3 separate regions of the Homo sapiens genome follow, and regions 1 and 2 are each reported to be linked to region 3. Evidence: microRNA targets listed by miRTarBase, many of them from high-throughput screens and not tested one by one. Region 3 holds a microRNA gene; each other region holds the end of a gene's coding sequence.

Evidence for each region. Region 3 holds the annotated microRNA hsa-miR-7157-5p (UCAGCAUUCAUUGGCACCAGAGA, at 2,862-2,884, shown strand). A microRNA usually pairs through its seed, bases 2 to 8, with sites in the 3' UTR of a target mRNA and lowers its output. Matches are read on the target gene's strand: a 7mer-m8 pairs with bases 2 to 8, a 7mer-A1 pairs with bases 2 to 7 and ends in A, and an 8mer does both.
Region 1: the mRNA of VPS4A is a reported target of hsa-miR-7157-5p. Seed matches in the 3' UTR shown: 7mer-m8 at 3,405-3,411 and 7mer-A1 at 1,301-1,307.
Region 2: the mRNA of CDADC1 is a reported target of hsa-miR-7157-5p. Seed matches in the 3' UTR shown: 7mer-m8 at 1,381-1,387.

Annotation. Positions count from the first base shown.
Region 1 is chr16:69,323,773-69,328,014 of GRCh38, reverse strand. VPS4A (vacuolar protein sorting 4 homolog A) reads right to left here. Exons shown (of 11, transcript NM_013245.3): 11 at 1,076-3,807. The coding sequence ends at 3,706. COG8 (component of oligomeric golgi complex 8) reads left to right here. Exons shown (of 6, transcript NM_032382.5): 6 at 1-1,587. PDF (peptide deformylase, mitochondrial) reads left to right here. Exons shown (of 2, transcript NM_022341.2): 2 at 1-1,102. Among named protein-coding and RNA genes, the nearest start is that of PDF, 4.7 kb to the left of the region's middle.
Region 2 is chr13:49,291,151-49,295,361 of GRCh38, forward strand. It overlaps CDADC1 (cytidine and dCMP deaminase domain containing 1), which reads left to right. Exons shown (of 10, transcript NM_030911.4): 10 at 534-2,335. The coding sequence ends at 607. Among named protein-coding and RNA genes, the nearest start is that of CDADC1, 45 kb to the left of the region's middle.
Region 3 is chr2:140,585,305-140,589,546 of GRCh38, reverse strand. It overlaps MIR7157 (microRNA 7157), which reads left to right and starts at 2,862; the gene lies at 2,862-2,921. The region is part of intron 43 of LRP1B (LDL receptor related protein 1B); the gene reads left to right. RefSeq lists a silencer at 3,034-3,083.

The sequences.
Region 1 (4,242 bases), not on the chromosome of region 3:
ATCACGCCACTGCACTCCATCCAGCCTGGGCGACAGAGCGAGACTCAAAAGTATGATTCTGGCTGTAGAGTTTTCTTTTTTTCTCTGTCTCAAAAAAAAAAAGTGTCAGCTTTGTCTTGTCAAGAGGTGAAGGAACTTGTTTTATTCTTTTATTTTTTTTTTAAGATAGAGACGGGGGTCTTACTATGTTGCCCAGGCTGGCCTCAAATTCCTGGTCTCAGGCAATCCTCCTGCCTCGGCCTCCCAAAGTGCTGGGATCAGTTGTGAGCCACACTACCCAGCCAAACTCCAGTTTTAGTTAAACTGTTTCACCTCATTTTTATGCTGAGTTTTGTAAAGTAGGTATTCTTGCTGAACAGAGTCCTGAAAATCAAACTATACAAGTAGTAGGAAGTCCATTAAGCTGTTTAGAGGAAAAAGTGTTATAAATGGCAGTTAAATGAACCCAGGAAAGACCCATCCTCCTTTGTGGCTTTCTCTGAGGCCCCATGAGGCCAAGCAGAAGCAAACTGGCTCTAGGTGCAGCCAGACTTTGAAAAGGAATCCCGGCCAGGCTTGGTGGCTCATGCCTGTAATCCCAGCACTTTGGGAGGTCAAGGCAGGCAGATCACCTGAGGTCAGGAGTTCAAGACCAGCCTGGCCAACATGGCGAAACACTGTTTCTACTAAAAATATGAAAATTAGCTGGGTGTGCTGGTAGGCGCCTGTAATCACAGCTACTTGGGAGGCTGAGGCGGGAGAATCGCTCAAACCTGGGAGGCAGAGGTTGCAGTGGGCTGAGATCTCGCCACTGTACTCCAGCCTGGGCGACAGACCAAGGCTCTGTCTCAAAAAAAAAAAAAAAAAAAAAAAAAGGGAATCCCAACCAGATACTGGTGCAAGGTCAGAGATGCAGCCAATGGGGAGATTTGTAGAAAGCTCATAGATGCTAAAAACATGGGTCTTTAGGAAAATTAGAATTCAGCTGAGCCTCCTTTCATTTGGACAATGTTCAGAAGCTCTTACAGGGGGCTATGGCAATCTTTTGATGCTTCTTATAGCTTTCTGAGGTTAACGCTTTTGTGGTGGGCATCGGTAGCAATAAAATGCAAACTTTATTGCATTTCCAGTAAAATCTCTCCCACTTTGAGCAGGAAGCACTCACAAAAAACGCATATACATGTCAACGTTGTGAGCTCATCAGAGTTTTAGAAATCAACTTCCACAGTGAAAGCCAATGTAGGCAGAAGGTTTATAACAGAATCCCCAGGCAGAGAAGTGAATTTCAGAGCATTTCAGGGAGGAAACTCCTCTGCACATGTCAGCATGTTTAACATCGATGATGGCAGGTTGTGTGCTGGCAGCCAGAGTCTGAGGCCACTGTCCAAAGTTCAGCGTCAGTGGTTCCTGTTGCTGGTCATGGAGAGAGACAACTGGAAAGTCAGGTGTCTTCACGCTCTAACTAGAGCACAGGGATGGACCATAGCCATGCTAACCTTTGTTAACCCCTAGGACTTGTCAAGGTGTTTAAGCAGTAGGAATGAGGAAACAACGTTCTGATTCAAGTAAATGTAACTAGAAGTAAAAATTTAAAAACTTGTAAGCTCACTAAAGTGAAGCTCTGCAGACACGGTTCATATCCTGGTGGCTGAGGGCACATAACCAAGAACTTACACAAGCACCCCCAAGCCACAAAGATCCCAGCTGCTATGGTTGAGGGGTAACCTGCCAGCACTGGAGCCAAGTGTTGGAGCTACTGATCCAAAGTTAGCTCACTTCTGCAGAGGCTCTGAACCAGAGCAAAGAAATGGCCCAGTGCAAGCCCAGTGTGAGCCAAGAGTTGGCCATGTAATCAGTTCTGGCCCAACCAGGTTTGAAAGGTAGAGGAGCAGTACTGGGTTTTGGAGAGGGAAGGTTGGAACAAAGCCCTTTGCAGGCTATAAGCTTCATTTACTAGGCCAGGTCTTTCTGTGTGAATGTGCTTTGACTTTGGTCTGTTTATATGCATGGGGTAAACGTGGGACAGCCTCTGCAGCTTCACTGCCTGCCGGACGTGGGTCCAGGGCTGCCAGCTCTGGGTCCTTGGTCTGTTGGGGGTCGCAAACTGAAATGGCCATGGGGCTATCTGGGCAGGCAACACAGATGAGTGGGGATGGGGGACCCCTTCTGTACAGAGCAGCCTCTACTTAGTGGCCGCTGACAGGCTGCCCCATGAGGACGCAGGCCCAACATTACCTAATTTAATCTTCTAGAAGTCAGAATTCTGAATTTTTATGTCAACTCTCGACTTTTTTTTTTTTTTTGAGACAGAGTCTTGCTCTGTCGCCCAGGCTGGAGTGCAGTGGCGCGATCTCGGCTCACTGCAAGCTCCGTCCCCCGGGTTCACGCCATTCTCCTGCCTCAGCCTCCCAAGTAGCTGGGACTGCAGGCGCCCACCACCACGCCCGGCTAATTTTTTTATTTTTAGTGAGACGGGGTTTCACTGTGTTAGCCAGGATGTTCTCGATTTCCTGACCTTGTGATCCGCCCGCGTCGGCCTCCCAAAGTGCTGGGATTACAGGCGTGAGCCACCGCGCCCAGCAACTCTCGACTTTTAAATGTTAGCGGCCCAAAGTGCTGGGATTACAGGCGTGAGCCACCGCGCCCAGCAACTCTCGACTTTTAAATGTTAGCGGCAGACCAAACCAAACAAACACAGCTGCAGGACGGGTCTGGTACGCAGGGCTCCCACTTTGCAGTCTCTGATCTGTAGGCCGAACAACGGCAAGAACTGTCTGGATCCCACAAACATCCCCAGCCAAACTTCTGAGGCCTTAAGGGGAGGAGGCCTTGCACACCTGACTGGAGAACAGGCCTAAGAACTGCAGTGTTCTGTTTCCTGCTCTGCTTTAGAAAAGAGAGGAGACAGAAAACCAGAGGGTCTTTTAATTGGAAGCAAGGGTGGCCCTTCAGAGTCTCAGTTAAGAGTCAAGGAAAGATGAGATCACTTGGGTAGCTCAAGAAGGGAAAAGGATTTATTAGACCATTTCCAGGACAGGGACCCAGGGGCAGTGGCTGGGTTCAGTGTTCTCACGCTCAGAGGAAGAAAAGGCAGTGGTGAACACCCGCCTGACTGCCTTACCCTGATCTAAACGACACCATCTCCTCCCCCAAGGAAGACACAGCCCTGGATGTGAACCTAGGAGGGTGGGAATGGCTTATGTCACTCGGTCTTTGAGGCAGAGCTTGGGCTGGGGTTGCAGGGGCATCAGCCAATCTGCTCTCAAGGAGCAAAACTTGGGCGTAAAAGGAACGGGCAGTGGGGCTAGCCGGCTGTCTGGAGGTCTGGGTGACCTGGCAGCACGGCTGCTTCTCCCCCGCCACCCCGCCCCACTCCTTGACACTTCCAGGTGATTTTATCTTTATAAATAAGATGAAAATCCAAGCAGCATTAATTTAGGGGAACAAAAGATGGAAAAAAAAGGGGGGGAGGCAGAAGGAGCTGATGAGCATCCAGGAGAGGAGGAAGTAGGAAGAGCAGTGTCCACTGTGTGCCCCAGGGCAGTGGAGTGTCTCTGTGGCTGCAAGGCCCTTCCTTCTGGCTCCCTGGCAGACGGCCAGACAGCAGAGGGAACTCTGTATTGACTGGGACAAGCCCTGGAGCCCTGTCTGGCTGTTGACATGGGGAGTGCCTGGATTTGCCCCAATCAACCTCCCACCTTCACCATTGCCCAAGTGAAGCAGCTTTTAACTCTCTTGCCCAAAGTCCTCTGAGAATTTCTTCACTTTCAGGAGGTCGTCTGCATTCACCGTGGGCCGGGTGGTGGCCAGAGACCGCAGCATGTCCGACTGTGAAGGCAACAGTATGTGCCTGAGCAGGAGCCAGGCTCCAGGTCCCCAACCTCCCCTCAGCACACAACAGGCGCAGCTGAGGGTGGGAAGAGGTTTGCCTTCAAGGCCACCCCAGAGGCCTGCTTGAATCTGCCTATGGCAGGGACCCTCTTCCCTCTCGAGGCAGCTCAGATGGGCCTCCTCCTGGTCTGAGAATCTAAGCTCCATCATCTCATAACTCCCCTTACGAACTTGCTTTCTTTTTTTTTTTTTTTTTTTTTGGAGACGGAGTCTGTCACCCAGGCTGGAGTGCAGTGGCATGATCTCGGCTCACCGCAACCTCCACCTCCTCGGTTCAAGTGACTCTCCTGCCTCAGCCTCCCAAATAGCTGGGACTACAGGCACGTGCCACCACACATGGCTGATTTTTGTATTTTTAGCAGAGACGGGGTT
Region 2 (4,211 bases), not on the chromosome of region 3:
TGAGTGAATTCAGTTTTTGGTTTTTTTTTTTTTTGAGACAGGGTCTCGCTGTGTCACCCAGGCTGGAATGCAGTGGCACAGTCATGGCTCACTGCAGACTTGGCCTCTCTGGGCTCAAACAGTCCTCCCACCTCAGGCTCCTGAGTAGCTGGGATTACAGGTGTGCGCCACAACACCTGTTTAAAAAAAAAAAATTTTTTTTGTAGAGATGGGGTCTCCCTATGCTGCCCAAGCTGGTCTTGAACTCTTGGGATCAAGTTATCCTCCCTCCTCAGCCTCCAAAAGTGTTAAAATTACAGACGTGAGCCATTGCACCCGGCCAATGTGAATCCAGTTTTTAAAAGCCAGATTCTGTATTGCCTGAGAGTAAGTTATCTAGATTGGATTCTCTACAATTGAGAATTTGAAGATAAAATAAAGTGAAAGTTCCTTTAACTTAAGCATTGTTTTGCTCTTACAACATGTAAGGCTGAAACAAGTGCCCATGGGTTTGAAATGAAGCTGTCCTGACCTAGCGTTATTCTCAATGCTAGATGGTGTGTTGAGACCTGTCCCACAGAAGGAAGAGCAGCACCAGGACAAGAAGCTGCGCCTCGGAATCCACTAAGAAGGCCTGTCTACACTGCAGGGGAACCTCAAGAACTTTTCATTGCACTTCTAAAATTCAGCCTTGTTCATTCAGAAAATAAGGATGGATTTTGTGAATAATTGAAAAGATTTTTTAAGGAAGCTAATTTATTTCTAGGATACAAATGGTGTTAATAAGAATATTTGTCTTTTAGATTTATGTGTGGGTTTTCCATAATGTAGTAGTGTGTTATTTTATTACACGAAATGAGGGAGCAATAACTTCAACCAATGTAATCACCAACAGGGACTGATTTCTATTTATCTTGACTTTATATTAGCCAATTTGAAAGGGTCTGCTTCACAAGAGGTCATGCCTCTGCAGGGAATCACACACCTTTTGAGAAATATTAATTCTTTTGAATTACAAGAGTGACAGTTAGTAAACTGCTCCAGGGAAATAAGTGTCATCTTTTAAGAGTCAGTGTATAGCAAACCAAAAGATCACATTTATACCCAAAGCTTTCTAGTAATCAGAATTTACTTAATTAGAATTGACTCATAAAAATAAAGTTAGTGGACTTTGTCTCCATTTTTAAAGTATATTTTGTAAATGTTAATTCTGTGGTCCTGTTTATCACAGACTTTGGGTAGCAATAGGAAGAGAGTGTTATTCTGAGACAGTGTCGCTGCTTGATATCACTGACTCTTGAAATCACTAACAGTGAACCTCAAATTTGGTTATGATGTTAACAGAGAAGAAATATTTGAGTCTGGAATATTGAAACTAGCTTTCCTAGAATTCCATTAATAAATGCTGCTCCCCCATATAGTCTTCCCTTCTGTATAATTAACATAGGTTGTCTCATGGCTTTGATCTTCAAAAGGAAGAGCCTTTTAAAAACATTTGCCAACCTCAAGAATAAATACTGAAAGTCTTGAAAGTATGGTCATTTCAGCTATTCCAGATTGCTGTCTGTGATTTCTCACATTTTTATTTGCTGAGAAACATTCAGAAAATTATTCCAAAAATGAAGGTACATTTTCTGTTCTCTCCTAGGTTAGAGAGGGGTGGCCTGGGGTGCTTCATGAGAAATGTCTTCCTGGATCTGCGGTGGTCAGGTTTGCCTCTGCTTTTGTTCCCTGCCTTTCCGCCACATCACACGGCCTCACTGGGCTTCCTACCAGTTTCTCAGAATTACACGCACGACCATCCAAACATTGGCTCCATGCCAGGGCTGTGACTGCAGCCTGTGTAGGACCATGGGGAGTTCAGAGTCATCATACAAGGCAGCCAAGAACTGCCATAAACACTACACAGATGGAGGGCATGGGATAGGACAGGAGAGGAGGTGATGTACACTTAGAGGTAACTAAGGCTAGTTTGAAAACCGTGAATTAAGATATTCTTATCAGTATAAAAACACTGAGATTGCTTACCTCCCAAATTGCTTTATTGTATTAACTCTCATGCTTCAGCTCTTGGATTTGTTGTTTCTAACTAACATGTCATGTACACCAAACATTTTATAAATCAATCAGTAAATATTTTGTAAGACCCAAAATCCTGGCATATTGCCAGGTCTGTGGATTTGCCTGTTGGGTGTTGGGATGGGATATCAGAGGAAGAAGCATACAAGTGGGAAAAACTGTGATTAGAAAGGGAAAAATAGGCATTTCCACAGTACTATTAAGAGAGGCATGATAATGCCATTTTTTTTCTTCTGTACAACTGGTCAGATTTCAATAAATAATCATTGATGGTTTACTGTGTAGCCTCAGAAGGTGAAGTCTATGAGGGCAGGGAGGTGTGTGTGTGTGTGTGTGTGTACTTTTTAACTGCTGAACCCCAGTGTCTAGAACAGTACCTGGCACACAGTAGGCATTCCATAAATATTTGTTTATTGATTGAATGACTGCTAAACACTGCTAGACTGCGGGGATGAGATGTGTGAGAAATGCCTCCTGATCTTAAGACACTCACAGTCAAGTGGAAGATACAAGCATGGAATCAAGTAATTAAGAAAAATGATTCTCAGGCCAGGTGCCGTGGCTCACACCTGTAATCCCAGCACTTTGGGAGGCTGAGTGGGGTAGATCACTTGAGGTCAGGAGTTCAAGACCAGCCTGGTCAACATGGTAAAACCCCGTCTCTACTAAAAATACAAAAAAAAAAAAAAAAAAAAAAAGCTAGACATGGTATTGCATGCCTGTAATCCCAGCTATTTGGGAGACTGAAGCAGGAGAATCACATGAACCCAGGAGGCAGAGGTTGCAGTGAGCTGAGATCATGCCACTGCACTCCAGCCTGGACAACAGAGCGAGACTTAGTCTAAAAGAAAAGAAAAGAAAAAAATGTCTCTGGACCAGCAGACTATTTGTTAGAAGTGCATATTCTTAGGGTGCTCCCTAGGCTTACTGAATTAGAACCTCTCAGGGTGGGCCCAGCAAGCTGGGGTTTCACGACCTTGCGGGTGATTCTGGTGACCTTTAAGGCTGAGAACTGCCATTGTGGATGTAACTGTAGGAACAGTGGGGGCACACGAGGATTTACCAGCACTCTGGGGAGTCATGGAAAGGACCCTGTAGAGGCAGAGGTGATGAGGTGGGGCCTGAGGGGATCCAGGGGTTTGCCAGGTAAACAGTGGGAATGAGACAAATTTCTGGGAAAAAGTGATGGAGACAGACTGCTGAGCCACCCCAGGAGCCCGCCTGGGTTTGGAGAAGCTCTGTGGGGCACTTTTGACCCAGATCTATAAATTCCCAGTCTTCATCCCTTAGCCTGAGAAATCAGAACTTACACTTAAACAAAAAATACAATGTCTTTCTAAATTTCAAAGAATGGGAGGATGATGGTAAGTTCATAATTTGTAAAAAAAAAAAAAAAAAAAAAAAATAGCTCTGCCATTTGTTTACTGCCTAAGTGGCCACAGAATATGCTACTGTGAGGGGAGCTAAGTGTAAGCATTTGCCTGGCTTCCTTCATCCCAGTCATGCAGAACATACGCAGGTGTGTGTATTTTCATTGTATTGCTGCTGAAGCTTTTTCTTTCCTTTTTCAAGACAGGGTCTCACTCTGTTGCCCAGGCTGGAGTGCAGTGGTGCCTTCATAGCTCACTGCAGCCTTGACTGTTTTCTGTGCTCAAGCGGTCCTCCCCACCTCAGCCTCCCAAGTAGCTGGGACTACAGGCACGTGCCACCACGCCTGGCTAGTTTATTTTTTATTTATTTTTTGTAGAGACAGGGGTCTTGCTATGTTGCCCAGGCTGGTCTTGAACTCCTGGCCTCAAGCAATCCTCCTGCCTCTGCCTCCCAAAGTGCTGTGATTACAGGCATGAGCCACCGCGCCTGGCCAAGTTAGCTTTATTTCTGGGTCAATGAATGGTACCAACACTCTATAAACATGAACTCTATCTTTAGTGACACTATGATACATAAATGAGCTTATCGCCCCTGAATGTCTATATCTAAACCCACGTAACACTTGGGAAGGAGAAAGAAAGAAGTGAGCCCATCTTGGGACAGGAGCTCCTTTGGTGAGTGTAGCACAGAGTGATTTGTTAGGGAAAGCACATGTCTTTCCAGAAGGACATGAGCCAGAACTTTCCTGGAATACTTCCCACCACCCCATGATTCTCAGAAAT
Region 3 (4,242 bases):
CAGGGCGGTTTCTAGTGTTTGGCTATTGTGAATGAAGCTTTCATGAATATCTGTGTACTGATTCTAGAATGAACATAATTCTTCACTCTCTGTAATAAATGTCTAAGAGTTCAATCACTGGGTCATACATTAGTGGCTTGTTTAGTTTTTTTTTAAGAAACTGACAAACTGCTTTCCAGAATGACTGTACCATTTTACATTCCCACTTACAGTTTATGAGTTATTTATATATTCTAGATGATACTTTTTTGTTGGCTATGTGGTTTGTAAATATTTTCCCCCACTTTGTAGTTTGTTTTTCCATTCTTTTCACATGAGATTTATGCTGAGCAAAATTTATTTTGATTATTTTTAATTTATATTTCTTTGTCATGGTTCATGCTTTTGATGCTAAGACTAAGAATTCTTTGCCTAGCCTTAGATTCCAAAGATTTTATTCTATTTTTTCTAAAAATGTTATAGTTTCACATTTCACATTTACATTCGTAATTCATTTTGAACTTATTTTTGCATTTGGTCAGAAACTTAGGTCAAGGTCCACTTTTTTGCCTATGGATGTCCATCTTTTTTTTTTTTTTTTCTTTGAGACGGAGTCTCGTTCTGTTGCCCAGGCTGGATGGAGTGCGTGGTGCAGTCTCGGCTCACTGCAACCTCTGCCTCCTGGGTTCAAGAGATTCTCCTGCCTCAGCCTCCCGAGTTAGCTGGGACTACAGGCGTGTGCCACCACACCCGGCTGATTTTTTGTATTTTTAGGAGAGACAGGGTTTCACCGTGTTAGCCAGGCTGATCTCCTGACCTCGTGATCCACCCGCCTTGGCCTCCCAAAGTGCTGGGATTACAGGCACGAGCCAATGCACCCAGCTGGATGTCCATCTTTTCTCTAATTGCTTGTATACTTTTTTCAAAAATCATTTGGGCATAATTGTAGGTGTCTATATTGGGGTTCCCTGTTCTTTTCCATTTATTTAATGAGTTTGCCACTCTGTCAATAACACACAGCCTTGATTTTCAAAGTTATTTTAGTTATTTTATTTTCTTTGCCATTTTGCATAAGTTTTAGAATAATCTATCCACATCTACAAAATGTCTTTCATATATCTATAGTGTCGTCAGGTATATTCTCTGTCTAACTTTTTTAGCAGTTGCTTTAGGTACTGCAGTATATATTCATTACTTATCAGTCTACAAGCATCACCATTTACCCAGTAAAGCGAAGCATAGAAACTTTACATCCCTTTATGTTTCTTTAGCCTCCCCTGTTTGTAATATAATTATCTTCAAGATTTACTCTGCACACAACAGTGTTAGATTTTTTTTGCTTCAACCATCAAACAACTTAGAAAACTCAGTATAAGGAAAGCCTACTTTTATGTACCCGTATTTTTGCTCACAGTGTTCTTTCTTTTTTCTTGATGTTCACAGGCTTCTTCTTTAATTGCTTACTTCCCTATTGCTTTCGAAAATTCCTTTTGTCCATTCTTTGCCATCTGTTGTGGCATATTATCTTAATTTCCTTTCATCTGAGACTGTTTTGATGTTCTCTTTATTTCTGATATTTTCACTTGGCATAGGTCACTGGGTTGACAGTTTTCATTTCATATTTGAGAAATATTGGGCCACTTCTTTCTGTTCTCTGTGATTTCTGATGAGATATCTATTATTATTAAAATTGTTTTCTTCTATGTAACATGTCATTTCCCCCTCGCTGCTATTAAGATTTGCTTCTTGTCTCTAGTTTTCAGAAGTTTATTTTTATTTTTAATCAGCAAATAATAATTGTGTATATCTCAGGAGTACAAGGTGATGTTTTGATATATGTATGTATTGTGGAATGATTCTTCAGGCTAATTAACATGTTAATCATAACACCCATGTACTTACTAATTTTTGTGCTATTTATCTCCAAAGTTAATTTCTCGTGTCTAACTGGAAATTTGTATCCTTTGACCAACATCTTATTCCCCATCCCATCTTCACTCCAGCCTTTGGTAGCTACTATTCTACTCTCTACTAATAAGAGTCTGACTTTTTAGATACCACGTGTGAGCTCATGAAGTATTTGTCTTTCTGTGTCTGGCTCATTTCATTTAGCATAATGTACTCCAAGTTCACCCATGTTGTCACAAATCACAATTTCAGAAGTTAAATTATGATGCGTCTTGGGTTTATAGTCTCTGAGCTTTAGTCTGCTTCTCGAATCTGTAGGTATATGTCTCTTGCCAGATTGGTGGTTTTCAGCCTTGACATTTTTCAAGTCCTTTTTAGCCCCACGCTTTCTCCTCTCCTTGTAGGACTCTTTGACATGAATGTTAGGTCTTTTACTATAGTCTCACAGGTCACTGGAGCTTCGTTCAGTTTTCTTTCTTTCTGCTTTTTCTTTGTTGTTGTGACTGGCTATTTTCTATTATTCTACTTTTTAGTTTACTGACACATCTTCCATTTCCTCCATTCTGCTGTTGAGTTTATTCACTGAACTTTTTATTTAAGTTATTTTACGTTCAGTTCTAAAATTTCCATTTTGTTCCGGTTTCTTTCTTCTATTTTTTTTACTGAGATTTTCCATTTCTTTCCTAAAGCCTTTATTTTTAAAAAAATTTTATTATAGCTACTTTTAAATCTTTTTCAGATAATTTTTACACCCCTGTCATCTTGGTGTTGGCATCTATTAGTTGTGATTTTTTCAGTCTCTTTGAAATCTTCCTAGTTCTCGGTATGATGAGTAATTTTGTTTGAACTTGAACATGTTCTACTGCATGTATCTCCGTATTTTCAACCCTTCTGTTTTTAACTGTCTTTCCCTGACATCGGTCTAGGAGGGGAAAGTGAGGGGTGCTACCCTATCGGAGTAGCAGGTCCCCCATTCAGCATTCATTGGCACCAGAGATGAAATTGGGACTCCTCTGTGCTACTGGATGAAGAGTGGGAGTTCAGGCTACCTAGATGGCCTCTACAGTGTCACCTAGAGGATGATGGTGGAAGTCCTGACCCTCCAGTGAGCTGCTTCTGACACCACCTCAGCAGAGAAGGGGTGGACACTTCATTACCATCAGGGGTGTGTGGAAGCCCAGGATCCCCACTTGGCCTTTGCTGGTGTGGGTGTGTCACAGCCTTTTTCCTGTGGTGGCTGGCTATAGTAAAGTTTTCTGCTGTGCTTGCTAGGTTGTTTCTTTCCTGGTCTTTTAGCTAGAGAGAGCAGATTATTATTTTTATTTTTTCTGTGTATGTTGCCATTTCTGGGTTGCCAGCTTATACGATTTGAGTCTGAGATATATGAGACAAAATGACACTTAGGAAACACACTTCCATGGAATTTCTTGGTCCCAAGATACCCAGCTGGGTTGCTTTTTCTCTCTACTTTTATAGTCACCTTATGTTTGTTTTATGTATAATTTCTAGAGTTTTAAGTTGTACATAAGGATCAAGAAATGTCTGTCTAGTCCATTTTTCTAGGAGCATAAGTTAGTGTGCTCATAGATTTTTAGACATTCAGAATAGAAAAAAAGGGAAACATCTATTTGAGTTTTTTTAAAGACACTTTTAAAGATCTAAGCTGATTTATGTTCTATAAGTCTGTAAAACAAGGCCCTTGCATTGCCAATGAATTTAAACAGGAATAAGACTTATTAAAGACTTATTAAACACACATGATATGGCATGAGCTGCAGGCCAAAGACATTGAAATCACTGATTTTCCACCTAAGGGAAATAAAGATTATGAAAATAAAGATGGTTGATTGTGTTGTCTAAATTTTATTGTCTTTAATGATAATGTGTAGATGTGATCACAGAGTATATAATAAAGTTTATATGAATATATGACATTGCCAAATATAGGTGTCTAAGTGAGAATAAGAAATAAGTGAAAAGAAAACTAAAATTAGTGTTAGATAACATTGTTTCAGTGTTGGACTGGTTCAAAAAAACTGTGTGATCTTGAGCAATTATTTTAATCTTTTTGAATCTCAGATTTGACATTTTGGGCTAGACTTAAAATTATTTTCCAACTCTAAGATCAGCCATTTGATATATATTTTATAACACATTCATATACATAAGAAGATGGTGCCACATCTTGAATATTTTAGACATGGAGGCAGTCTTGGTAGTAAAATAGAACATACTGCTTTTCAGGAAGCAGTATGATGTGGGAGAAATTAATAAACTTAGATTGTTTAGACATGAATTTGAAACTTAGATATAAGACCTGTTGTTTAGTAAGCCGAGGACATTTCTTAATCCTTC